7 linked regions of the Homo sapiens genome follow. The protein of the gene in region 5 interacts with the protein of the main gene of each other region in a pairwise test. Each region holds a gene or a part of one and is shown on either strand. Other genes may lie near its edges. The genes, in order: WWOX, CEP76, ATXN3, PRDM14, PATZ1, RBM10 and IQUB.

What was found.
Region 1: the proteins of PATZ1 (region 5) and WWOX interact in binary tests that used the Homo sapiens proteins (3 or more experiments, as listed by UniProt).
Region 2: the proteins of PATZ1 (region 5) and CEP76 interact in binary tests that used the Homo sapiens proteins (3 or more experiments, as listed by UniProt).
Region 3: the proteins of PATZ1 (region 5) and ATXN3 interact in binary tests that used the Homo sapiens proteins (3 or more experiments, as listed by UniProt).
Region 4: the proteins of PATZ1 (region 5) and PRDM14 interact in binary tests that used the Homo sapiens proteins (3 or more experiments, as listed by UniProt).
Region 6: the proteins of PATZ1 (region 5) and RBM10 interact in binary tests that used the Homo sapiens proteins (3 or more experiments, as listed by UniProt).
Region 7: the proteins of PATZ1 (region 5) and IQUB interact in binary tests that used the Homo sapiens proteins (3 or more experiments, as listed by UniProt).

Annotation. Positions count from the first base shown.
Region 1 is NC_000016.10:78,109,654-78,113,153, forward strand, and holds part of WWOX (WW domain-containing oxidoreductase), read left to right. Parts: intron 1-124; coding exon 125-182; intron 183-3,500. UniProt on the Homo sapiens protein: Putative oxidoreductase. Acts as a tumor suppressor and plays a role in apoptosis. Required for normal bone development. May function synergistically with p53/TP53 to control genotoxic stress-induced cell death.
Region 2 is NC_000018.10:12,685,724-12,689,223, reverse strand, and holds part of CEP76 (centrosomal protein of 76 kDa), read left to right. Parts: intron 1-2,773; coding exon 2,774-2,962; intron 2,963-3,500. UniProt on the Homo sapiens protein: Centrosomal protein involved in regulation of centriole duplication. Required to limit centriole duplication to once per cell cycle by preventing centriole reduplication.
Region 3 is NC_000014.9:92,082,583-92,086,082, reverse strand, and holds part of ATXN3 (ataxin-3 reference isoform), read left to right. Parts: intron 1-2,579; exon of another isoform or gene 2,580-2,670; intron 2,671-2,824; coding exon 2,825-2,957; intron 2,958-3,500. UniProt on the Homo sapiens protein: Deubiquitinating enzyme involved in protein homeostasis maintenance, transcription, cytoskeleton regulation, myogenesis and degradation of misfolded chaperone substrates.
Region 4 is NC_000008.11:70,054,253-70,057,752, reverse strand, and holds part of PRDM14 (PR domain zinc finger protein 14), read left to right. Parts: intron 1-2,351; coding exon 2,352-2,453; intron 2,454-3,500. UniProt on the Homo sapiens protein: Transcription factor that has both positive and negative roles on transcription. Required for the maintenance of embryonic stem cell identity and the reacquisition of pluripotency in somatic cells.
Region 5 is NC_000022.11:31,339,847-31,343,346, reverse strand, and holds part of PATZ1 (POZ-, AT hook-, and zinc finger-containing protein 1 isoform long C), read left to right. Parts: intron 1-386; coding exon 387-450; intron 451-1,663; coding exon of another isoform or gene 1,664-1,942; exon of another isoform or gene 1,943-2,668; intron 2,669-3,500. UniProt on the Homo sapiens protein: Transcriptional regulator that plays a role in many biological processes such as embryogenesis, senescence, T-cell development or neurogenesis. Interacts with the TP53 protein to control genes that are important in proliferation and in the DNA-damage response.
Region 6 is NC_000023.11:47,148,221-47,151,720, forward strand, and holds part of RBM10 (RNA-binding protein 10), read left to right. Parts: intron 1-3,500. UniProt on the Homo sapiens protein: Binds to ssRNA containing the consensus sequence 5'-AGGUAA-3'. May be involved in post-transcriptional processing, most probably in mRNA splicing. Binds to RNA homopolymers, with a preference for poly(G) and poly(U) and little for poly(A).
Region 7 is NC_000007.14:123,458,096-123,461,595, reverse strand, and holds part of IQUB (IQ motif and ubiquitin-like domain-containing protein), read left to right. Parts: coding exon 1-239; intron 240-3,500. UniProt on the Homo sapiens protein: Adapter protein that anchors the radial spoke 1 (RS1) complex to the A microtubule of outer doublet microtubules in axonemes. The triple radial spokes (RS1, RS2 and RS3) are required to modulate beating of the sperm flagellum.

The sequences.
Region 1 (3,500 bases), on a different chromosome or scaffold from region 5:
TGACAACTGCTGGGTGGGAGGGACAGGCTTGGGGGCGGGGCTGGGAGGGCTCCTTCCCTTCCTGACCCAGGGATGGTCTTTACTTCTCCCTGGCACCTGTAGACCTGTCTTTCTTGTGTTTCAGATTTGCCATACGGATGGGAACAAGAAACTGATGAGAACGGACAAGTGTTTTTTGTTGAGTAAGTGTCTGCAAAGAAACCACTCTCAGCTGTTTTGCTTTTTAATAGGAATTTTTAATTATAAAAGTAATACATAGTAACTGTAGAAAAATACAAAGTATAACAGTGTGTATCTGTAATCTTAGCAGAAGTGACTACTTTTAACATCGCTGGAACTTTTAACATCGCTAGATTTATTCTTCTATTTTCCCCGCACACGCATCCTTAAAAAAAAAAAGTAGGGAGGCCAGGCATGGTGGCTCATGCCTGTAATCCCAGCACTTTGGGAGGTCGAAGTGGGTGGATCCTGAGGTCAAGAGATCGAGACCATTCTGGCCAACATGGTGAAACTCCGTCTCTACTAAAAATATAAAAATGAGCTGGGTGTGGTGGCACGTGCCTGTGGTCCCTGCTACTCGGGAGGGTAAGGCGGGAGAATCACTTGAACCCAGGAGGCGGAAGTTGCAGTGAGCTGAGATCGCGCCACTGCACTCCAGCCTGGGTGACAGAATGAGACTCCTTCTCAAAAAAAAAAAAAAAAAAAAAAGAGGGAATGCACTGTGTGGACTGTTTAGTAACCTGCTTTTTCCATGTAATATATTATGAGCATTTTCTTGTATCCATATCTATTTTTCAAAAAGATGCTATTTAGCAGCTCTAGAGTTATTATTTTGTACAGATATACTATAATTTATCAAATTGCCTATTGGACATTAATGCTAAATTCCTGTTATAGAGAACCTATAATTATAAATAATGTATTGAGCATCCTTATCTGTAAGACTTTTTCACCTCTCTGATTCTGTCTTTAGGATAAATTCCGGTATCACGCAGCAATAGTAACCACCTGTCCAACATATAGCATGAGCCAGGCCTGATTCTAATCATCTTGTATCTGTAGCATTAGGTCATTGGATCCCCACAGTGCCCTGAGAGGTAGTATTGTTATTATCCCTAGCTTACTGCCAGTGACACAGACTTGAGGGGGTAAGTGACTTGTTAAGGATCCCACAGCAAAGAAGTAGCACAGCCAGGCTTTGAGCCCAGCACCTGCTCCAGGGACTGTACTCTTGACCACCGTAGTTAAGAGGAGAATTAATGTTTCACAACTGTCAACATTTAAATTAGAAGCTTGAATAGTCTTTGACAGGATTAGGATTGGTTGGTTAATAGAAGTTGATTTGAGCAGGAATTTTTTTTTTTTTTAAAGTTATGAATGTAACATAAACGTTTCAGTATTTGATTCAAGTACACCAACATTTAGGGGTCGGGCCAGCCCTCCTCTGAGTGTGAGTCCACTTGCATGGATCCAGTGTGGTCTTCCTTCCCCTAAGCATGCCTGTAACATAACATCTACAATTTCTACTTTCATTTTATGTGGGCGAAAGAGTACCTAGGTGCCGAGGCAAGAGACTGAAGGCACAAACTGTTTCAGTATAATAAAGAAAGTAGTTAGAATAAGAATAGTCATAATACAGGTTAGATATGGAGATGATCATGGACAATTATCAATCATTACTATAAACACTATTAATCATTAGCTTTTAATATTACTCTTTGTGGCATTACTAACATAACCTAGGAATAACTGGCATGTATAGGCTCAGGTGCTAAAGGGACATTGTGAGAAGTGACCTAGAAGGCAAGAGGTGAGCCTTCTGTCACACCCGCATAAGGGCTGCTTGAGGGCTCCTTGGTCAAGCGGTAACGCCAGTGTCTGGGAAGACACCCGTTACTTAGCAGACCGCGAAAGGGAGTCTCCTTTCCTTGGAGGAGTCAGGGAACACTCTGCTCCACCAGCTTCTTGTGGAAGGCTGGGTATTATCCAGGCCTGCCCACAGTCATCCGGAGGCCTAAACCCCTCCCTGTGGTGCTGTGTTTCAATGGTCACGTACGTTGTCCGCTTTCATGCTCCTCCCGTACTCCTGGTTCCTCTTTGAAGTACGTAGTAGATAGTGGTAGAAGAAATGGTGAAAGTTTTAAAGTCTTTGATCTTTCTTTTAAGGGCAGAAAAGAAAATGCTGACGTATGCTGCCTTCTCTCTCTGCTTCGGCTACCTAAAAGGGAAGGGCCCTCTATCCTGTAATCACGTGACTTGCTTCACCTTGTCAATCACTTAGAAGATTCACCCTCCTTACCCTGCCCCCTTGTCTTGTATGCGATAAATATCAGCGTGCCCAGCCGTTCGGGGCCACTACCGGTCTCCACATCTTGGTGGTAGTGGCCCCCACCCTGGGCCCAGCTGTTTTCTCCTTATCTCTTTGTCTTGTGTCTTTATTTATTACAATCCCTCGTCTCTGCACACGGGGAGAACACCCGCTAAGCCCAGTAGGGCTGGACCCTACAACTTTAAGGTTGAGCAAACACAGTATTTTCAAAGAATCTGATTGCTACATCATTTGGGAGTTTTATGGTATTTTTCTAGCATTTTCACTGTAGTTGATTGAACCAAAACTTTTTTTTTAGCTGCTTGTCTTTGAGGCTCTCCAAAGCATTCGACCACATTTTCATAGATACCACTGACACTATTTTTCACCTCCCATGTTATCAGTTTGTGTAATAGTAGCTTGCTGGTAATGTAGTTACAGTAACAAGTTCAAATGACATGTGTGTTTTTTGAGCAAACCTGGTGAACTTTTGGTGCAAAACTGATATTGAGAGCAAATAGGCCAAAGCTTGCTTGAGAGAAGTCTCCCAGGCCACCATAGGCAGCCCCAGGAAGACGGGGCTGTCTAGCAGTTGGATAGGTGGGAGTGCCTATTATTTGTTAAAAGGCTTTTTGCCTAACTTGTGAAAGTTTTTTTTCCTCAACTAATTAAGGGTATCAACGCATTGGTTGTATGTTGAAAATGTTGAAAATGTTTTTTTTTTTTTTCCAAGTTTTCTTTCTTTTTTTTTTTTTATACTGGGTCTTGCTCTTCTTATCCAGGGCTGAGGTGCAGTGACACAGTCACAGCTCGCTGCAGCCTCAACCTCCTGGACTCAAGTGATCCTCCTGCCTCAGCCTTCTGAGGAGCTGGGACTACAGGCTCATGCTGCCATGCCCAGCTAATTTTTAAAGACTTTTTTTTTGTAGAGACTGAGGCTCAGTATGTTGCCCAGGCTGGTCTTGAACTTCTGGCCTTCAGCGATCCTCCTGCCTTGACTTCCCAAAGCATTCATATTACAGGCATGAGCGACCACACCTGACTGAATTTCTTAAATTTTTTATGTAGTCAAATCAATTTTCTCCTGTGCAGTCTTTGCCTTTGCATTCACGCTTGGAAAGTTACTCCCTGAAATGGGTATTAATCAACCAAGAGCAGCAGTTCTCAGGCATGGTTCCTGGACCAGCAGCAT
Region 2 (3,500 bases), on a different chromosome or scaffold from region 5:
TTATAAAAACAATAGTTATAAATCAAAACGTTAATATACATATCCAGGCCAAAAAAATTTCTAATGTATCCAGCACTGAAAGTAAAGTAAAGAACTTTTTTTTGTTGTTGTTGTGAGACAGAGTCTCAGTCACCCAGGGTTGAGTGCAGTGGTGCGATCTTGGCTCACTGCAACCTCCACCTCCCAGATTCAAGTGATTCTCCTGCCTCAGCCTCCCAAGTAGCTGGGACTACAGGCACGTGCCACCATGCCTGGCTAATTTTTTGTGTTTTTAGTAGAGATGGGGTTTCACTGTGTTAGCCAGGATGGTCTCGATCTCCTGACCTCATGACCCGCCCGCCTCGGCCTCCCAAAGTGCTGGGATCATAGGCGTGAGCCACCACACCTGGCCAAGAACTTTTTGCAATGATGGAAATGTTCTGTATCTGTGCTAACCAGTATGGTAGCCACCAGCCATGTACTGAGCATTCAAAATGTGGCTATTATGACTAAAAATAATTGAATTTTAAATTTTAATTAAAATTTAAATAGCTCATAATGGTTAGTGATTTTCTCACTGGACAGTGCCCATTCAGAGGTTGAAATATTAACTTTTCAAAACAGTTAAGTAGCTTGTGGGGATATATTTAGATAATATTAGAATATTGCTGTAATAAAATGATATATCTTACATTCTAAGATGCTACTATTGATGATTGACTTAGGCAAATGCTTCCACTTCTTATGTGCTCATCTTTTCTTGCCTGTTAGTGGATTTGTAAGAATAGGAGTAACAGTCCTGCACCTCAATACTAACCAAAGATCTGTAGATTTGCCGTGGCCATTATACTTAAAAATTCATTATTCTTTTTACCCTTTGTTAGCTGGTTTTGCTATAGTATAGTAGTAATTCATTGAATGATGCTTTTTGAACTTTTTAGTGCAAGAAACTTTAAAATAAGTTACAGAAATTGAACTTTAAGGCCACTAGGTTTTGTTTTTTTTTTTTTTTTTTTGAGATGGAGTCTCGCTCTCGCCCAGGCTGGAGTGCAGTGGCACGATCTCGGCTCACTGCAAGCTCCGCCTCCCAGATTCATGCCATTCTCCTGCCTCAGCCTCCTAAGTTGCTGGGACCACATGCCTGGCTAATTTTTTTTGTATTTTTAGTGGAGATGGGGTTTCACCATGTTAGCCAGGATGGAATTGATCTCCTGACCTCGTGATCCACCCACCTTGGCCTCCCAAAGTGCTGGGATTACAGGCGTGAGCCACCGTGCCCAGCCTAAGGCCATTAGGTTTTAAGAAAATGTTGTAAATCACTTGAGGATTGAGGATATTCTTTTAATATTTAGTTTGTGATTTCAGGACTTAGTATTCTTATACCACACTAGATTATTAGTAATGCTAAGTTCATGTAAAAGAAAACCATAGTTCTCTACATCCCCCCAAAATTAGAATAATAATCCTCTGTTTTAAAAATCGGTGCCCTCTAGGCCAGGCACAGTGGCTCACACCTGTAATACCAGCACTTTGGGAGGTCGAGGTGGGCGGATCACTTGAGGTCAGGAGTTTGAGACCAAGCCTGGTCAACATCGTGAAACCCCATCTCTACAAAAATACAAAAATTAGCCAGGTGTGGTGGCACATACCTGTAATCCCAGCTACTCAGGAGGCCGAGGCACAAGAATCGCTTGAACCCATGGGCGGAGGTTGCAGCGAGCCGAAATCACACTACTGCACTCCAGCCTGGACAACAGCGAGACTCTGTCTCAAAAAAAAAAAAAAAAAAATTGATGCCTTCTATAGTTGAGAACTATAGGTATGAGTGGAATCTATAGCCAAGTTGCTCTGCAACATAAAAATTAATGATCTTTCTCATTATAATCAAATGTAAATAAGTGAGTTTTTTTTTCCTTGCTAAAGTATGGGACTATATTGGAAAAAGATGTTCTGGTTGTGGAGAAAGACATCAGTGGTTCTGATAATTCAAACAGATGGTGTTTCTTTTGGCTGGGTTAGATCTCATGTCCTGAGGAACCCTATCAGGGAGGGTAGGTCATCTCCAAATCTTGAATAGTAAGTGGCCCTTTCACAGTGCCGTATCAGTAACCATGAAGGTAAAGAGATTGTGGACTTTGGTAATACTCACTGTAAAATCACAGTGGTAGACAGTCATCAGAGACCTATATATGCATACAAGTTATTCAGCACCAACACCAGGAGATATCCTGTATTTAGGATGTAAAACTTTTTCTAGAGTGTTTTTTGAAATTTTGCTTTCAATTGACTTGGTTAACAAATTATTGTTTCCTGTGGATCTCTAAATTTGAGGCCCTAATGGAAACAAACTAGAATCAAGCTACAATCATTTCTGTTATATCAGCCAATCAGAAGAGTTATTTGTTCTGTCTGGCTATATGTTGTTAAATTCTATATGGTAATGTGAAAAAATACTTCAGCTTAGAGCACCTCTCCCTCCCCTACATACCTACCCACACATTTCTCAGAGGAGTTCTTATTGCCACAGCCTTTGGAGTAAAACAGCTCAGAGCTTGAACCTGGCTCTGTTGCATAATAGCTGTAGCTCCTCAGTTTTCATCTATAAAATGAAAATAACGGAGATGAGGATTAAGGGAAATTATATACACAGCACTTTGCAGCCAAATACTGGATACAAGGTAAGCACTCGATCAATGGTATGCTGAATTATTTTATCCTACATTAATGTATTTGAAAAAAACATAATTGGGGATGATTAATATGTCATTACAGATGTTTTTCCCCTTTTCCCTAGGATGAAAATGGGATAAATAGACCAGTCTGTTCCTATGTTAAACCACTTCGAGCTGGACGGCTTCTTGATACTCCAAGGCAAGCAGCAAGATTTGTTAATGTCCTTGGTTATGAACGAGCCCCTGTTATTGGAGGAGGAGGTAAACAGGAGCAGTGGTGCACTCTGCTGGCCTTTCTCTGTAGAAACAAGGTATTATACACACATAATAGAATTAAGTAGCAGTATATCATAGTTACTCTGAATTTGTAATCCATTTGTAAAAGAATGCCTTAGAAAAATGCACATATAGTCAACCCTCTGTACCCACAGGTTCTGTATCTGTAGATTCAACCAACTGCAGATCAAAAATACTTACAAAAGTAAAAAATTACAATAATAAAAAATAGTACAAATTAAAAAATGGTGTGTAACAACGTTTATGTAGCATTTACATTGTATTGAGATTTTTAAACAATTTAGAGGTGATTTAAAGTATATAGGAGGATGTGCTTAGGTTATATATAAAATACTATACCATTTTGGCTGGCCGCAGTGGCTCATGCCTGTATCCCAGCATTTTGGGAGGCTGAGGCAGGTGGATCACCTGAGGTCAGGAGTTCAAGACCAGTCTGGGCAACATGGTGAAACCCTATCTCTACTAAAATACAAAAAATTATCTGGGCATGGTGTCGTGTGCCTGTAATCCCAGCTACTCAGGAGGCTGAGGCAGGAGAATCACTTGGACCCT
Region 3 (3,500 bases), on a different chromosome or scaffold from region 5:
CATGCTTATTGCTGCTGGGTTTGTTATGTAGTTATTGTGAATTCACATTTAGGAATATAGGGTTTTTAATTCTTTGATTTTAGATACTTGTATCTTTTTTCTTTTATATTTAAAACCTTGGTTCCTGATGATATCCCTTCTTAGAAACCCTGTCTACCTTTGGCCTTCAGCCCACCATGCTGTGGTTTTCCTAACTTGCTGCCTGCACTTTTCAGATTCCTTTCATGGATCTTAAATATCATCTGTAAATAAGATCTATGTGTCAATAATTACCAAACTTTTATCTTTAGTCTTGACATCTACCCTGAACACCTAGCTTTGACTAACTCCTAGCTTTGGCATCTCCACTTGGAAATCCAAAAAGTGTTTCAAACTGAACATGTCTATGAAAGACTTATTTTTTTCTCTCTATCCATGCTATCCATCAGGTTTTCCATTTCCATAAGGGTGACTCTTGTACTCTGGTTCCTATATATTATACCGACAGAGCAGCCCAGAGTGCTTCTTAACCAGTGTAAGGCCTGTTATGTCCCACCCTCACTCTTTGTCCTTCAGTGGCTTCCCAGCACACTTAGAATAAAATCTGAAGTCTTAGGCCGGGCTTGGTGGCTCATGCCTGCAATCCCAGCACTTTGGGAGGATGAGGGGGCAGATCACTTGAGGTCAGGAGTTGATGAGACCAGCCTGGCCAACATGGTGAAACCCTGTCTCTACCAAAAAATACAAAAATTAACTGGGTGTGGTGTTGTGCACCTGTAGTCCCAGCTACTCGGGAGGCTGAGATAGGAGAATCACTTGAACCCGGGAGGCAGAGGTTACAGCGAGCCAAGATCATACCACTGCACTCCAGCCTGGGTGACAGAACGAGACTCTCAAAAAAAAATTAAAAAAAAAAAATATGTGAAGTCTTGAATAAAACCCAAGATCTTTACCATGGCCCCTGAACAGGGCAGAGTATCCATTCTTCAGACACTCTTCATAGAATACCATGGTGAGCTGGCATATTTATTATACAATACAGAAACAATTTTACTGGCAGAAAACACATTAAACCGTCTAAACTCTGAATACAGTTGTCCTCATAAAAAATGTTCAACATACTATTTTGAGGTTTTCCATTAATAGTTCTTATAATCTTTGTCCCATTATGTGTTAATCCAACAAAGGATATCCAATAACAAACACCAAAGTTTAAGAAAAATGTGCTAGGCGCGGTGGCTCACACCTGTAATCCCAGCACTTTGGGAGGCCGAGGTGGGCAGATCACCTGAGGTCAGGAGTTCGAGACCAGCCCAGCCAACATGGTGAAACCCTGCCTCTCCTAAAAATACAAACATTAACTGGGTGTGGTGGTGGGTGCCTGTAATCCCAGCTACTCAGGAGGCTGAGGCAGGAGAATCGCTTGAACCTCCTGGGAGGCAGAGGTTGCAGTGAGCTAATATTGCACCACTGCACTCCAGCCTGGGTGACAGAGTGAGACTCCATCTCAAATTAAAAAAAAAAAAAAATTAATGATAGAGAAACTTAAATCAGTTAGATTGTTTTAGGTATAGCCCATCCTTGGTTTTTGTGTGTAGCATCTAGCTTGGGGAAACCCTGGATTTCTGGAATCATATTTAGACACAGTCACACTAGACTAATGTAATTCTTTTGGGATGCAAACCACACGTTTGACACCTTAAATAGCTTTTAGGTATTTGGCTTCCCAGCCCCTATTTTTAGTTACAAGGGGTGTACATGTGTGGGTCAGGGTGGGGGTAGCTCTTTCCGCAGATGATTAGTTTTAGCCATGTTACTAGTTATTGCACACATTATCTGTGTCCTCACAGCAGCCCTGTGAGTAAGTGTATTAGGGTTCTCTAGAGGGACAGAACTAATAAGGTAGATGTATATATGAAGGGTAATGTATTAAGGAGTATCGACTCGTATGATCACAAGGTGAAGTCCCACAATAGGCTCTCTGCAGGCTGAGGAACCAGGAAGCCAGTCCAAGTCCCAAAACCTCAAAAGTAGGGAAGCTGACAGTGCAGCCTTCAGTCTGTGGCAAAAGGCCTGAGAGCCCCTGGCAAACCACTGGTGTAAGTTCAAGAGTCCAAAAGATGAAGAACTTGGAGTCTGATGTTTGAGGGCAGGAAGCATCCAGCATGGGAGAAAGATGAAGGCTCAGCAAGTCTAGTACTTCCACACTCTTATTTCTGCCTGCTTTATTCTAGCTGAGCTGGCAGCTGATTAGATGGTGACCACCCAGTTTGAGGGTGGGTCTACCTCTCCCAGTTCACTGGCTTAAATGTTAATCTCCTTTGGCAACACCCTCGCAGACACACCCAGAAACAATAATTTGTAGCCTTCAATCCAATCAAGTTGATAATATTAACCATCACAGGAAGGTACTAGTATCATATGTTTAACAGTAGAAACCAAGACAAATGCAGCTAGGAAGTGGGAGAACTGGGATCAGATGCAGGCAGTCTGATTCTAAATCAGTTGCTGTTACCCACTCTGACAACAGTAAGTGAGTAGCCTGCTCAGTCAAGTACTATATTAGTAGGGCCCTTTACAGACATATTTATTTCTCACAGTCACTCAATGAGACGGCTCTTCCAGTCTTACAATGGAGAAAGTGAGGCTCAGAGACTTTAAGTAACTTACCTTAGACGACTTTACTAGTAAGTATAAGAATCATTATTTGGACTAAAGTCTTTCTGAATCCTCAGCTTGTATTTTTTTCCAGTGTTCTGTGCTGCCTTTTTATCTACTAGTGTTTTACATCAATTTTGAATCTCTTTACTAACTGGTTAGGTTGATTTTTGCCTTTTTTTTTTAGGTTATTCTATATTTGTCGTTAAGGGTGATCTGCCAGATTGCGAAGCTGACCAACTCCTGCAGATGATTAGGGTCCAACAGATGCATCGACCAAAACTTATTGGAGAAGAATTAGCACAACTAAAAGAGCAAAGGTAAAAATGAGGCCTGCAGTATGGAATATATGGTAGTATTTCATTATGAGAATTAAATTTTCATGCTTAGATTGAATATGTGGTCCTTGTGTTGTTGGCGACTCTATTTTGGACCTTATATTTTAGTGAAGTTTATTAGTTTAAACTTGAATCAACTCTTTGAAATACTTAAATATATTAACTTAGTTAGCTGGTATGGTATATTCCTAGCACTTCGGGAGGCTGAGGCAGGCTGATTGCTTCAACCCAGGAGTTCGAGACCAGCCTGGGCAACATGGCAAAACCTCATCTCTACAAATAGTACAAAAATTAGCCAGATGTGGTGGTGTATGCCTATAGTCCCAGCTACTTGGGAGGCAGAGGAAGAAGGATCACCTGAAACTGGGGAGGTAGAGACTACAGTGAGCCATAATCACACTACCGCACTCCAGCCTGGTCGAGAGAGTCAGACCCTGTCTCAAAAAAAAAAAAAAAAAGAAACGGAAAAAAAAAACTTAGTTGGATTCAAATTGCAACACAATCATTATATTACTAGAGCTTATT
Region 4 (3,500 bases), on a different chromosome or scaffold from region 5:
GTGAAGGTATTTCTCGCTTATTAGACTGGCAAAAGTGAAAACTATCCAGTATTCTGATAGTGAAAAGTTTGAGACTGCATGTTCATCAACACAAAATTGATTATATAAATTATGGCTTACTGGCCAGGCGCAGTGGCTCACGCCTGTAATCTCAGCACCTTGGGAGGCTGAGGTGGGCAGATCACCTGAGGCCAGGAGTTCGAGACCAGCCTGGCCAACATGGCGAAACCCCATCTCTACTAAAAATATAAAAACATTAGCCGGGTGTGGTGGCAGGCACCTGTAGCCCCAGTTACTCTAGAGGTTGAGGCAGGAGAATTGCTTCAACCCCAGAGGCGGAGGTTGCAGTGAGCCGAGACTGTGTCATTGCACTGCAGCCTGGGTGGCAGGAGTGAGACTCCATCCCAAAAAAAAAAAAAAAATATTGTCTTATCAAGCAAAAACCAAATTACAGAAGATGTATAGAATGCTTGCTCTCTTTGAAATTGGAGGCCGGGAGTGGTGGCTCACGCCTAATCCCAGTACTTTGGGAGGCCGAGACAGGTGGATCACGAGGTCAGGAGATCAAGACCATCGTGGCTAACATGGTGAAACCCCATCTCTACTAAAAATACAAAAAATTAGCCAGGCGTGGTGGTGGGCACCTGTAGTCCCACCTACTCGGGAGGCTGAGGCAGGAGAATGGCGTGAACCTGGGAGGCGGAGCTTGCAGTGAGCCGAGATCGCGCCACCGCACTCCAGCCTGGGTGACAGAGCGAGACTCCGTCTCAAAAAAAAAAAAAAAGAAAAGAAACTGGAGGGCTGTCAACCAGGAGGTCAGTAGATGACAGGACTGATGAGGAAGCTGGTGATAGTGAGATGATGGCTTACCCTTCAACAGACGAGGTGCTCTTACAGTACAGTGGAGGAACAATCTTTTTTTTTTTTTTTTTTTTTGAGACAGTCTCACTCTGTTGCCCAGGCTAGAGTACAATGGCATGATCTCAGCTCACTGCAACCTCCACCTCCTACGCTCAAACAATCACCCAACCTCAGCCTCCCAAGTAGCTGAGCTGAGGCTATAAGTGCATGCCACCATGCTCAGCTAATTTTTTGTATTTTTTGTAGAGATGGGCATGTGGTGCGCACCTGTGGTCCCAGCCACTCGGGAGGCTGAGACACCAGAATTGCTTAAACCCAGGAGGCAGAGGTTGCGGTGGGCCGAGATCATGCTACTGCACTCCAGCCTGGGCAACAGAGCGAGGCTCTGCCTCAAAAATAAATAAAAATAAATAAATAAACAAATACAAAGATTTGCTCTCTCCTCTGCCCCATAAGCATGCCTGGAAAGAGGTTGTGAAAGCACAGAAACCTTTCTCAGAGAAAAATTGTTTTTTCTCTTTAGTTAGTGTAATTTCCTTAAAAGTGATGTCAAAACCAAAGGCCTTCTGCTTTATCCCTGGCAAACTCTCGGTGCTTGCACCTCTCTGGTAGTTTACTTCACCTGGTGTAGAATTCCTGAGACAGTTTCGAGAGGAGTTGCCAGGGTCAAGAAACAATATTAATTATTCACAGCGTGTGAACAAAATATTAACCTCTTCATGCAAGTTCAACACGTCTCAGATAATCTGCTACTGTGCATTACCATGTTGGCTTACATGTTCATCGTCACCCCTCCTTGATTTCTAGCTCCTGGTTTCTAGCAGTGTGGAGCACACAGTAGGTACTCTGTAAGTCGTAGATAATTGTTGAGTTAATTGCACAGTACTTGTAGTTTACTCATAGCTCTGTGAGGAAGGCAGAGCAGGTATTTTGCCCATGAGCAAGATCGGGAAACTAAGATTCCAGATTTAACCAATGTTCTGTAGTCACACAGCTACCTGTTGAGAGAGCAGGACTAATTCAGGCCTCTGCCATATACCACAAACCTGTTCAGTTCCCACATTCCACATCTGAAGCAAGAGTTCTCTCAGGTCGGGTGCCGTGGCTCAAGGCTATAATCCTAGCACTTTGGGAGGCCAAGGCAGGAGGATCTGTTGGAGTTCAAGACAAGGCTGGGCAACATAGTGAGACCTCATCTCTACAAAAAAAAATTTTTTAAGTTAGCTGGCTTAGTGGCACGCACCTGTAGTCCCAGTTACTCAGGAGGCTGAGGTGGGAGGATCGCTTGAGCCTGGGAGTTCCAGGCTGCAGTGAACCGTGATTGTGCCACTGCAGTCCAGTCTGGGTAACAAATTGAGATCCCGTCTCAAAAAAAAAAAAAAGAAAAAAATTGGAAAAGAGTTCTTCTCTAACCCCAGGTAAACGCAAGGTTGAAATGGACTTGTTAGAGGAAGGTGTGATTTCAACTATATTTTTCTTTTTCACCTTAGTGTTCTACATGTGGGAAATGTTTCTCTCAATCTTCCAGCCTAAACAAACACATGCGAGTCCACTCTGGAGACAGACCATACCAGTGTGTGTATTGTACTAAGGTAAATGGAACCTCTTACTAAGGGATGTGTCCTGAGCTCTGCTTGAGTGTCTATGGATAAGAACTTGAAACAAAGCCTGGCTTAATGAGTTCTTGGTAAATGTTAGTCAAATATCAGCCCAGTCCTCATTTCCACCCCTAAATATGCTCAAGTTTGCTAAAGATGGTCAAATATAACCAACCTCCTATTGCCAAGCTGGCATTTAGAGTACATGTAATAAAATACATTCCAAATTTATGGGGACCTGATGACCTATTACATAGTATTTAAAAGCACTAGCTGAGTGTGGTGGCTCACACCTATAATCAAATTTTCCATGCATCGGTGGCTTATGCCTGTAGTCCCAGCTACTTGGGAGGCTGAGGCTGGAGAATTGCTTGAGTCCAGGAAGTGGAGGTTGCAGTGAGCCAAGATTGCACCACTGCACACTCCAGCCTGGGTGACAGAGTGAGACACTGTCTCAAAAAAAAAAGGAGGGGGTGGGGAGGCGTGGTGGCTCAAGCCCGTAATCCCAGCACTTTGGGAGGCTGAGGTGGGCAGGTGCCTGGAGATAGGGAGTTCGAGACCATCCTGGCCAGCATGGTGAAACCCCATCTCTACTAAAAATACAAAAATTAGCTGGGCATGGTGGCACGTTCCTGTAATCCCAGCTACTTGGGAGGCTGAGGCAGGAGAATCACTTGAACCCAGAGGCAGAGGTTGCAGTGAGTCAAGATTGTGCCACTGCACTCCAGCCTGAGTGGCAAAGTGAAACTCCGTCTCCAAAAAAAAAAAAAAAAAAAAATCACTATTTCATAGTATTTAAGAACACAAACATGGCCAAGTTTCAAATCCTGCCTCTGGTGCTTACCTAGCTGTGCCACCCTGAGCAAGTCCATGAACTCCTGTTAGTTTCCACATTGATAAACTGGGGAGAATAGTCTTTACCAAGTTGTTGGATAACATCAGTAAAGTATATAAAACTCTTGTAACAGTGCCTGGCATAACATAAAAGTACTACTGGAATGTTAACTGCTATTATTACTACTTTAATCTGTGAAGGATGCT
Region 5 (3,500 bases):
TTTCTAAGGGGCTTTAGTCTGGACAATGAATCACATATCCCCTCCTGGAAAGGCTGCAGTGAGGCAGCTCTGTTTCATTCTACTGCCACCGCCTCTGGTCCTAGAAAACACTGAGTTTCTGGTGGGGAGAATTGAGGGAGTGGGGAGGCAAAATCAGAGACAAATGCCCATTTCTCTTCCCCCCTCCAGAGAAAACCAGGGCAGAGAGGCCTGGGCCTGTGGAGCCAGAACTGGGTGGTGACTTTGTCTTTGTCATGCTGGGGTTGGGGAGAGGGAGTCCTTTCCAGCAGTGAGTGTGTGTGTGTGTGTACACACGTATGCATATGTGCCTGTGTGGTGGGGTCTGGCCAAGTTTCTAAAGTCCCTCTTGGTTCTCTCTTTTCCAGGCCTGATCACTTGAACGGACATATCAAGCAGGTGCACACTTCTGAGCGGCCTCACAAGTGTCAGGTAGGGGCTGGGTCAGGGCAGAGATGGGCTGAAGGAGATGATGCTGTTCTCACGGTCGCAGCCTTGAGCCAGCCGCTGCGTGTGCCGGGGGCCCGGCTGACCGCCCACCGCTTTGCACACCTCCCCTCTGTTCCTCCACCCTCCCTCTGCTCTCCTCCTTTGTTCTTCCCCCAGGCCCCCTTCCCCCACAGCTGACGTTCCTCCTTCCTGGTTGCTTGGTCCTGGTTCCCACCCTGTCTTTGCCTTCACTCTGTTGCTTGGCTTTCCTCTCCTGGTGTTTGCCGGCTCCTTGGATGGTGGGCCGTATCACACAGATGTTGTGTTGGGAGACCCGGCACTGCGCTGGGCCTGACTGTTGGTTTCCAGCAGTTTGTAGGGACTGCAGGTTTTTTTAAAAGGGCTCCTGGTGGTCCAGCCAACCACTCTTCCCCTTTTCTGACCTCAGTTAGAGCTCCTCCTGGGTCCCCTCAGCTTAGGGCACAAGGCAGTGGGGGAGGTAGGAGGTAGGGAGTGGGTGGTCCCCTCTCCCACACTGGCATCTGTTTAACCCATCCTAAGCCAGGGTTTCTGGAGGACTGGAGAGCAAAGTGGGCTCTTCTTCTTTTAGCTCTTTGCAAAGTAGCAGGTAGGAAACGCTGGACCAGATAGATTCTCACCCTTGGTTTACCTGCTTGAACAATATCTGGGGGCCCTGCTGGTACCCAAAAGATTGAGTTTCCTCTCCTGGCCACTGAGCCTTCCTGTGTGGATAGCGAACACACCTCTGTCTTCTCCTTGGTTATCTCCCCTCTCCCATGCCAAGTTCCCATCAAGTGAGGGCGAGCCATGATTGTGGGGTGTGCACTGCAGTCTCTGATAGGATAACCTGCTTCTCCTTATCCTGTTGGTGGCAAGGGGAGAGGGTTCAGGGAGACCAGCAGGGAGGGATGAATGTGCCGTAAGTAGGGCAGAGCCCCTGGGGGTCAGGCGTGGACGGTGTTCACAGGTGCTGGGCTAGGCAGTCTCCCTGGAGGATGACCCAGGGTGGGCCTGCTGGGATCTGTCTTTGCCTTGCTGCCTTCTCTCTCTCTGTCTCTGATTCTCTCATCACAGAGCACATTCTGACTCAGGTAGTGTGCTGATTAGCCCGGGCAGAGTAGGAGGAGCCCAGAGGGCAGTGGGGGCAAGCCCGGTGGCCTGGGGGGGTAACCTGCACTCTCTGCCCTTTTTCCAGGTGTGGGTTGGGAGCAGCAGCGGCCTGCCGCCCCTGGAACCTCTTCCTAGCGACCTGCCATCATGGGACTTTGCCCAGCCTGCTTTGTGGAGGTCGTCCCATTCGGTTCCTGACACCGCCTTTTCCCTTTCTCTAAAAAAATCATTCCCAGCCCTTGAAAACCTGGGCCCAGCACACTCCAGCAACACTCTCTTCTGCCCAGCCCCGCCGGGATATCTGAGGCAGGGCTGGACCACCCCAGAGGGCAGCAGGGCCTTTACCCAGTGGCCTGTTGGCTAGCCTGGGCCTCCCTGGAGAGGGTTGACAGTGGAAGGGAACAGGAGGGGCATTTGGCCTGAGACCCCTGCTTTTGGGAGAGGCTAGCAGGGTGGTTCCTGCCCAGCATGCCCAGCTCCTCCCTGGGTGACTCGGAGTCTTTCCCATGTCAGAGCCCCCAAATGGGGGTAGCAAGGAGCACCTTTCTGGAACCCCCTATAGCATCCAAGTTTCTTTCTGGGCTCTCTTGCCTTTTCCCCCCTTTCACAGATGGCACCCCTGGGCATCTGTCCTTGCCTAGGTGATTTTGGAGGTTGGTGCCTTCCTGGGAACTAGCCACCAGCTTATCTGCTTCCCTTCCCCTGGCATCACTTCCCATAGGCCTGGGGTTTCTAGACTGGGGCCTGGCCACCCCTTTCCCCACTCCACGAGTGAGTCGGCCTCCAGAGAAGACTGGCACAATTCCAACTAGAGTCAACCCATGCTGCCCTCTGCCCTTCCCACTCAGATCTAGATCCTGCTTTCATTTCTGGCTAGTGAAGTAGACTTTTGTGTTTTTGAGGTTTATTAGCAGGTCTGCTCAGGAACCAAACTAATGAGTAGCTTTATATTGGGCCACCCCAATATATGGCTTTGGGGGCTGAAAAAGCAGATGTAGACCCCCTCCCTCGGATCCTTATTGGTGTGCCCTTTAGCACTCCGCAGACTCTGCGGGGTGAACAGGAGTGATGATAAAATTTTTCATTCTAACATTTGAGGCTTTGTGTGTTTTGTCCTTGGTCTGTGTCATAACACTGACATCACTGTCCCTTGGTGTACAAATGCGCTCCTGCCCTGCCCCTCCCAACATACACTCTCACAGACCTGCTGGCCCCTCCTCCAGCCCTACAGCCACAACTCCCCTAACGGACCCAGCAGGTGAAGACATGCTGGCTCTCTTGCTCTGGGCTGGCCAGCCAGGTGTGCCTGGACTTGGTTAAACAGCAGGGGCACCTGTTGGCATAGTGTGGGGATGCTGAAAACATAAGAGGTGAAGAGACGGCTCTCTGGGAGTTCATTCCTTGAGTTCCCCACTGGCTAGGCACAGTCCGTATCGCTCATCCCCTCCTGATGCCAGAGAGAATGAAAGAGGCCAGTTACAGAGACTAGTGCCATAGCTTAAGTAGAAAGGCCATCTGAATGTAGGGGCAGGAAGCCTCAGGCTTGACAGTGGCATGTCTCTTTGGGACTTGGCCTGAGTGTCCTTAACTGGCCCAGATGCCCCAGGTACTGCTGGATTTATGAGCTTAGTGGGCTGGGACATTTCCCCCACATGGAGTTCAACCTGAAGCTGAGAGGCTGGAGCAGCTCAGACCTCCCTAGCTTCCACGGGCTCCACTTCTTGGGGGCTGGTTAGAGAAGGAATGCGTTGAGATGGGCATATGCTCGAGAAGAAGGGGGCCAAAGAGCCCAGGGAGCTGAACCTTCATGCATTGCCCTTAGAGTTTTCCAGGGCTGTGGGAGAAAGCTGCTTGAGACTACCCCTGAGGCTGCCTGAGTTCAAGGGCTACTAAGGGTGGGGGTGTGCACTAGTGCCCTTGGT
Region 6 (3,500 bases), on a different chromosome or scaffold from region 5:
TATTTTGTTTTCTGAAAAGTGAGCCCAAATTTGAGATAAGGTCATCACCTAGTGTTATTCAGTCTTGGCTTTCATTAGAAATGTTTTTTGAAAGACATTTGATTTTGGACGGTATTCACTAGAAGTGCTCTGTGGCCATTTCTGAATTTGAGTAGCTGACATACATACTTTGTTCAAACTTTATTACCAAGTAAAACCATTGACTTTTAAAAGCCCTCAAGTGCAGAGGTTTGAGTTCATCATACTTTCCAGTTCAAGGTAGGTTTCTGTCATAGGTCAGCAAAAGGCTTCCTCTTGTCATGTTTATTTTTTCATTTTTATTCCCAATTCCCACCTCTGTGGGCAGCTGCTCTGTCGTGTTTGATATGTATCCTTCTATGATACATATCATAGAAAATGTATCCTTCTATGATACATATCATAGAAAATGTATCCTTCTATGATACATATCATAGAAAATGTATCCTTCTATGATACATATCATAGAAAATGTATCCTTCTATGATACATATCATAGAAAATGTATCCTTCTATGATACATATCATAGAAAATGTATCCTTCTATGATACATATCATAGAAAATGTATCCTTCTATGATACATATCATAGAAAATGTATCCTTCTATGATACATATCATAGAAAATGTATCCTTCTATGATACATATCATAGAAAATGTATCCTTCTATGATACATATCATAGAAAATGTATCCTTCTATGATACATATCATAGAAAATGTATCATAGATTTATCATATAGATCATTTTCATATAAATGTATCATATAGATACATGTATCATATAAATACATACATAAATGTATCATATAGATACATTTTCATAGAAAATGAAAATATGAAGTGTTGTTTTGAGTGACTGTGTTTTCAGTTGACACACATGGCATGGTGCCACAGTCTTCGTTTTGTTTCCTGAACTTTGTATTACTCAGAGTGGGAGGTTTTTTTTGTTTTTTGTTTTTTGTTTTGAGACAGGGTGTCTCTATGTTGCCCAGGCTGGTCTCAAACTCCTGGGCTCAGGCAATTCTCCTCCCTTGGCCTCCCAAAGTGCTGGGATTAAAGGCATGAGCCGCTGTAACTGGCCAACAGTGCTGTTTTTTTTTGTTTGTTTGTTTTGTTTTGTTTTGTTTCTTTGTTTTGAGAAAGAGTTTCACTCTTGTTGCCCAGGCTGGAGTGCAATGGCGCAGTCTTGGCTGACCACAACCTCTGCCTCCCGGTTTCAAGCGATTCTCCTGCCTTAGCCTCCCACATAGCTGGGATTTCAGGCATGTGCCACCACGCCTGGCTAATTTTGTATTTTTAGTAGAGATGGGGTTTCTCCATGCTGGTCAGGCTGGTCTCGAACTCTCGACTTCAGGTGATCCTCCCATCTTGGCCTCCCAAAGTGCTGGGATTATGGGCATGAGCCACCACACCCGGCACAGTGCTGTATTTTTAACATCTGTCTGTATTGCCATGTATATGTTACTACTTTGTTTCTAATTGCTGGCAAGGGCATCATGGGGCATGTCTACTGAGTTTTACTTAATACTTCCCCCAAGAGTAGATGCCTGTTGTTAATTTTGATGTGCTAGCATCATTTTTTTTTTTTTTTTTTTTGAGACGGAGTTTCGCTCTTGTTGCCCAGGCTGGAGTACAATGGCGCGATCTCGGCTCACCACAACCTCCACCTCCCAGGTTCAAGCAATTCTCCTGCCTCAGCCTCCCAAGTAGCTGGGATTACAGGCATGCGCCACCACGCCCAGCTAATTTTTTGTATTTTTAGTAGAGATGGGGTTTCTCCATGTTGGTCAGGCTGGTCTCGAACTCCTGACCTCAGGTGATCCGCCTGCCTCGGCCTCCCAAAGTGTTGGGATTACAGGCGTGAGCCACCGTGCCCAGCCCAACGTCACCTTTTTTGCTTTATCTGTTAATGTATAGTGTTTTTTGTTTGTTTGTTTGTTTGTTTTGAGATGAGTCTCGCTCTGTCACCCATGCTGGAGTGCAGTGGCACGATCTCGGCTCACTGCAAACTTCGCCTCCCGGGTTCACACCATTCTCCTGCCTCAGCCTCCCGAGTAGCTGGTGCTACAGGCGCCCGCCACCACACCTGGCTAATTTTTTGTATTTTTAGTAGAGATGGGGTTTCACTGTGTTAGCCAGGATGGTCTCGATCTCCTGACCTGGTGATCCACCCGCCTTGGCCTCCCAAAATGCTAGGATTACAGGTGTGAGCCACTGCGCCCAGCCTAATGTAGTTTTTACCTTTTGCATTCAGATCTTTAATCCATCTAGATTCCACTCTTGAATATGGCATACGGTAGGCTCCGGTTTTATTTTCTTCCATATAGTAGGCAGTTTTTCCAGTACCACCTCCTAAATAGTCCATTCTTTCTTTATTGATCTGTGGTACCTCATCTGATTTCAGGTTCCCTCATGTACATGGATCCGTCTTGAGTGATGTGATTTGTTCCATTGGTCTATTTGCACATTCTTGTGCCAGCACCTTACTGTTTTTATTATTATGGCTTTATAGAATGTCTTAGTAGCTCCTTTGCACTTATTTTTCAAAGCTGGTTTAATCATTTATGGGGCTTTATTATATATCAAAAGTTATCAAAGTCCCTCAAAAACAACAAGAATTTTGATCGATGTTACACTGAACTTCTCTATTAATTTGGGGAAAATTATCTTTGTAAGTAGTCATTTCATCTAAGACCTTTGTAGAGAATATTTTGAAATTTATGTAAAGAGCATAAAAAGCTTTCATTTTCATAAATGGAAATACAGGTCTTATGTATTCTTTGTTAAAGTAATCCCTAGGTACTTCAGTCACTTTCATTATCTTTTTTTTTTTTTCTCGAGACTTGGTCTTGCTCTGTCACCCAGGCTGGAGTGCAGTGGCGACCTCCACAGGCTCAAGTGATCTTCCTACCTCAGCCTTCCAAGTAGCTAGGACTACAGGCACGCACCACCACGCCCAGCTAATTTTTTGTAGAGACGGAGTTTCACCATGTTGTCCAGGCTGATCTTGAACTCCTGAGCTCCAGCAATCCACCCACCTTGGCCTCCCAAAGTTCTGGGATTACAGGCCATTATCTTATTTTTTAAAAAATATTTTTCATGCTGGTATTTGCTGGGGTAGAGGAAAGCTGTTGATTTCTGTAAGTTACCCCTGCTGTATGCCCTTATTATTTCTAATACTTCATTGTTGATTCTGATGTTCTTTCTAAGTAGTTGGTCATATTGTATGCAAATCTATCCTGTCACTTATTTATTTTTCTTCATTTATAGTATTGTCCAGGACTTTTAGTACCATATTAAATAGTATAAGTGATACTGGGTACACAAATTAAGATTTACTTTGGCTGGTTGTGGCAGAAAGTCCAAAGGATAATGGCTTAGACAAGATAGTTTACTTTTCTTTCCCATAAAGGCAGTCTGCAGAAGAGCAATTAATCTAGGGCTGACAGGCAGCCCCTTCTGTGTAGCCATCCTCAGCA
Region 7 (3,500 bases), on a different chromosome or scaffold from region 5:
ACCCATTGAAATTTTATAAGAAGATTTACTTTTGCCACAGTTGCCAGCTTTATTTGCCTTCTACAGAATTTTCTGTATCATCCACCTCACGCCGCATATACCGGTGTCGTAACTGCATTAACCTTCAGAATGAGGCTCAAAAACGAGAATCATTTTTGAAGTACAAATGTTTACTTCAACAGCTCTACTATACAGAAGCTGATTATGAAGATGATTCTAAAATTGCTTTCTTGATGCAGGTATGGTCAATAAGGGGTGCCAATTATAGCTGAAGCTTGTCAAGGAGGCTATCTTGCAATCTTATGTATGTTTGTGTGTGTGTGTGTGATTGTTTAATGACTCTCTATTCCACTAGACTGTAAGCTCTGTGAGGGCAGGAGTATGCTTTTTTTCCCTCCTGCTCACCATTATACCTCTATAACCTAATACAGTACCAAGTTTTTATTTAAGGCCCTCAATATTTGTTGAATGAATGAATGACTTTTACAGAAACTGATGTTACATATACACATACTAGTGTTTACGAATAACAGTAATAATTAGTGTAAACCAAATGTGACCATAATGGTAAATAACACCAAAAGTGAAAGCTAAGGCTTATAGAAAGTAAAAAAAAAAAAAAACCTTAGGGAAAGGCTTTGATACTTGTCTATGTAAAGTGTTGATATGATACCACACAACTGGAAAGTTTCTGGCCAGAGTTCTTTTGGATGAATCATTGCATTGGATCATTGACCCTACGTAATCTGCTTCTCGTAAGAACTTCTAGCTCTGTGAGAGGGTGGAGCCTGTGAGATCAGGAATTCTGACCTGAATTCCTAACTTAACCACTACTTCGGTCTCTTTGGTTATTCCATGTCTTCTATTGGGTTTAGGCCAGAGGATAGTCTGTGTCTCTACAAAATAAAAACAAATTCCTGACACTGTTTGGACTTAGGTAAGCAAGTGAGAAAACAGAAGGACTTACTTGTTGTTGATATGGCTACCCAACATTAGCCACTTATTAATAAAAGTATATTATAGAGCACAATTGACCTCATTAATGATATTTGTGTTCACAGACTGTCAAATAAGGGCAAATTTTCTGTAAATTAGTTACTAATTAAAATGAACTAAATTGTATTTAATACCAAATAGGAAAGTAGGCACTACTATGAATAGAAAACTTTATAGAGATTAAAAAAAAGATACCAAATGTGATGTGCTTTGTTAAAAAATTCTTCTAAATCCATAGCTTTCAAACTTTTAAATCTCAATCTATAGTAAAAATGTATTTTTATGACAACCTGATATAGGCATGCATGATAATTCTCAATACTCAGTACCTATATGGCTTTACACACTTTATTGAGTTAATCAGCACAAAAATCCTATCAAAATAGGCATTATTTCCATTCTGCAGGTGAGGAAAGGGAAGCACTGAGTGGTTAACTAACTTGTCCAAGTTTACGCTACTAAGTACCAGCACCAGGATTGAAAACTAGGCAGTCTGATTCCCAGCATCCGTACATGTAAACACATGCTGTTCTGCCTCAGAAATAAAAGTTTCCAAAATAGTGTTTATCTTTACCCCTATGGATGTACTCTGATATTTTCTATTCAATCTCAGTCTACTTATTCTGATTTCCATTTGGAAAACTTTGGTATCACCCAAGAGGTAGCAACCCACAGTTTGAAAAGCACAAATTAAAATGATTACATATTTTGTCCAATAGAATGAATATTTTGTTAATAAATTTGATGTTTATTTCAGCTTAAATTCTTATTTGCTACTTTTATTCAGGAATTATTGACATGACAGATGTATATTTCCTTGTAGAGAATCTTAGATGTACTAGGGCTTTAATGTAAGTCACCAAGAAGTGCTGGCTCAATATTCCATGTTGTATTAGTCAGATTTCTCCTGAGAAACAGAACCAATAGAAAATGTTATACATATATGTTATATATATATACATATAAGGAGATTTGTTACAAGGAATTTGCTCACATAATTGTGGAGGCTGGTAAGTCTAAAACCTAAACAGCTGATGGCCCAGTTCAAGTCTGATGACCAGCAGGCTGCTATAGAGCCAGGAGGAGCCAGTGTCTCAATTCAATGGCCATTAGGCAGAAACAGTCTTCCTTACTTGGGGACAGGGTGAACTTTTTGTTCTATTCAGGCCTTCAACTGATTGGATAAAGCCCACTCACATTATGGAAGACACTCTGCTTTACTCAGTCTACTGACTTACTTAAATGTTAATCTCATCCAAAACTACCCTCACATAAACACCAGAATACCGTTTGACCAAATATCTGGGTATCCGGTGGCATCATCAAGTTGATGTAAAATCAACCATTACACATATTGAATGAAAAAATTCTAGGGGAGCATTGTAACCTTTCAGATAAGGATAATCTCCATTAGATGTGATTTAATTTCAGTACCGTATCTATGTAGGGTTTTGGTCTATTACTTTTCCAATGTCTAGGATTAGCAGACAAATATGAGTGTCCAGTAGCTTCCCCCCCCTTGTAATTGGTGTAGTTTTGATTAATATTTATTTCAGTAATAGTATTTGAGGCATAATTTGAATGTTTGAACATTCTCATAAATAGTAAATCTTGTGGACAACAGCAAAGATTAGCATATGTTAAATGTGAACATGATGCCATGTAAAATGAAAAGGTGAAAGTTAATATATATAAAAAGTAAACATTCTGCTTAGACAAGAGATTTGAGTGTTGTACTAGTCACCTCGTTTATCTGTAATGCATACAAATACTGCCTAATATAATAGGCAATAGTATTGCTCTGTTACTGCAAAAATTTCAAGTACAATGACTACTTGAAAGGTAGAAAGCTCTTAGAGACTGTCAACCACACTTATGTGCACATTTGACATTTACATGCAAATAAACACGTTATTCTGTATGATACAATTTCAAAATTATTAGTACAGTTGAGCAACTAAATTAAAAACAAAAATGTAAACAAGATGCATTTTGAATGTAAGTAAAATATATAAAACATTGAATTTTAAAGGTCTATAAATTTATTTTTCATAGCAGCTGTGTACAGAGTATTGTCTTTTTTAGCATTAAGTAAAAGCTAGAATGCATTAGTTGAGCTTAATATATTGAATTACCAATTTATGAAATACTGTTGTAGCTGATGATGACAGGTTCTTTTTGTTTTTTACTTTGGCAGATTGTTTAGGTTTTGTGTACTCATTTTACAGAAAATATTTCTGCTCTCACACTTTTTCACAGAAGCTTTTTTAAAAAATATTCTTTTTACATGCTTATACTTTGTTGAGTTTGTCCGTCTCTGGCAATTCTAAATTTATAATGCAGACCCCATGATAAAAAGTCATTCCAAGAGTTTTAGCTGATAAGATTTACGTTTTTTAAAAAGTTTTAAACAGCTATTTCATTACCCCTCTTTTTGATTAAAACAACCAAGTCTTTTAATTAACACTAAGTGAATTACTTATCTTTATTAAATCTCAACTTCC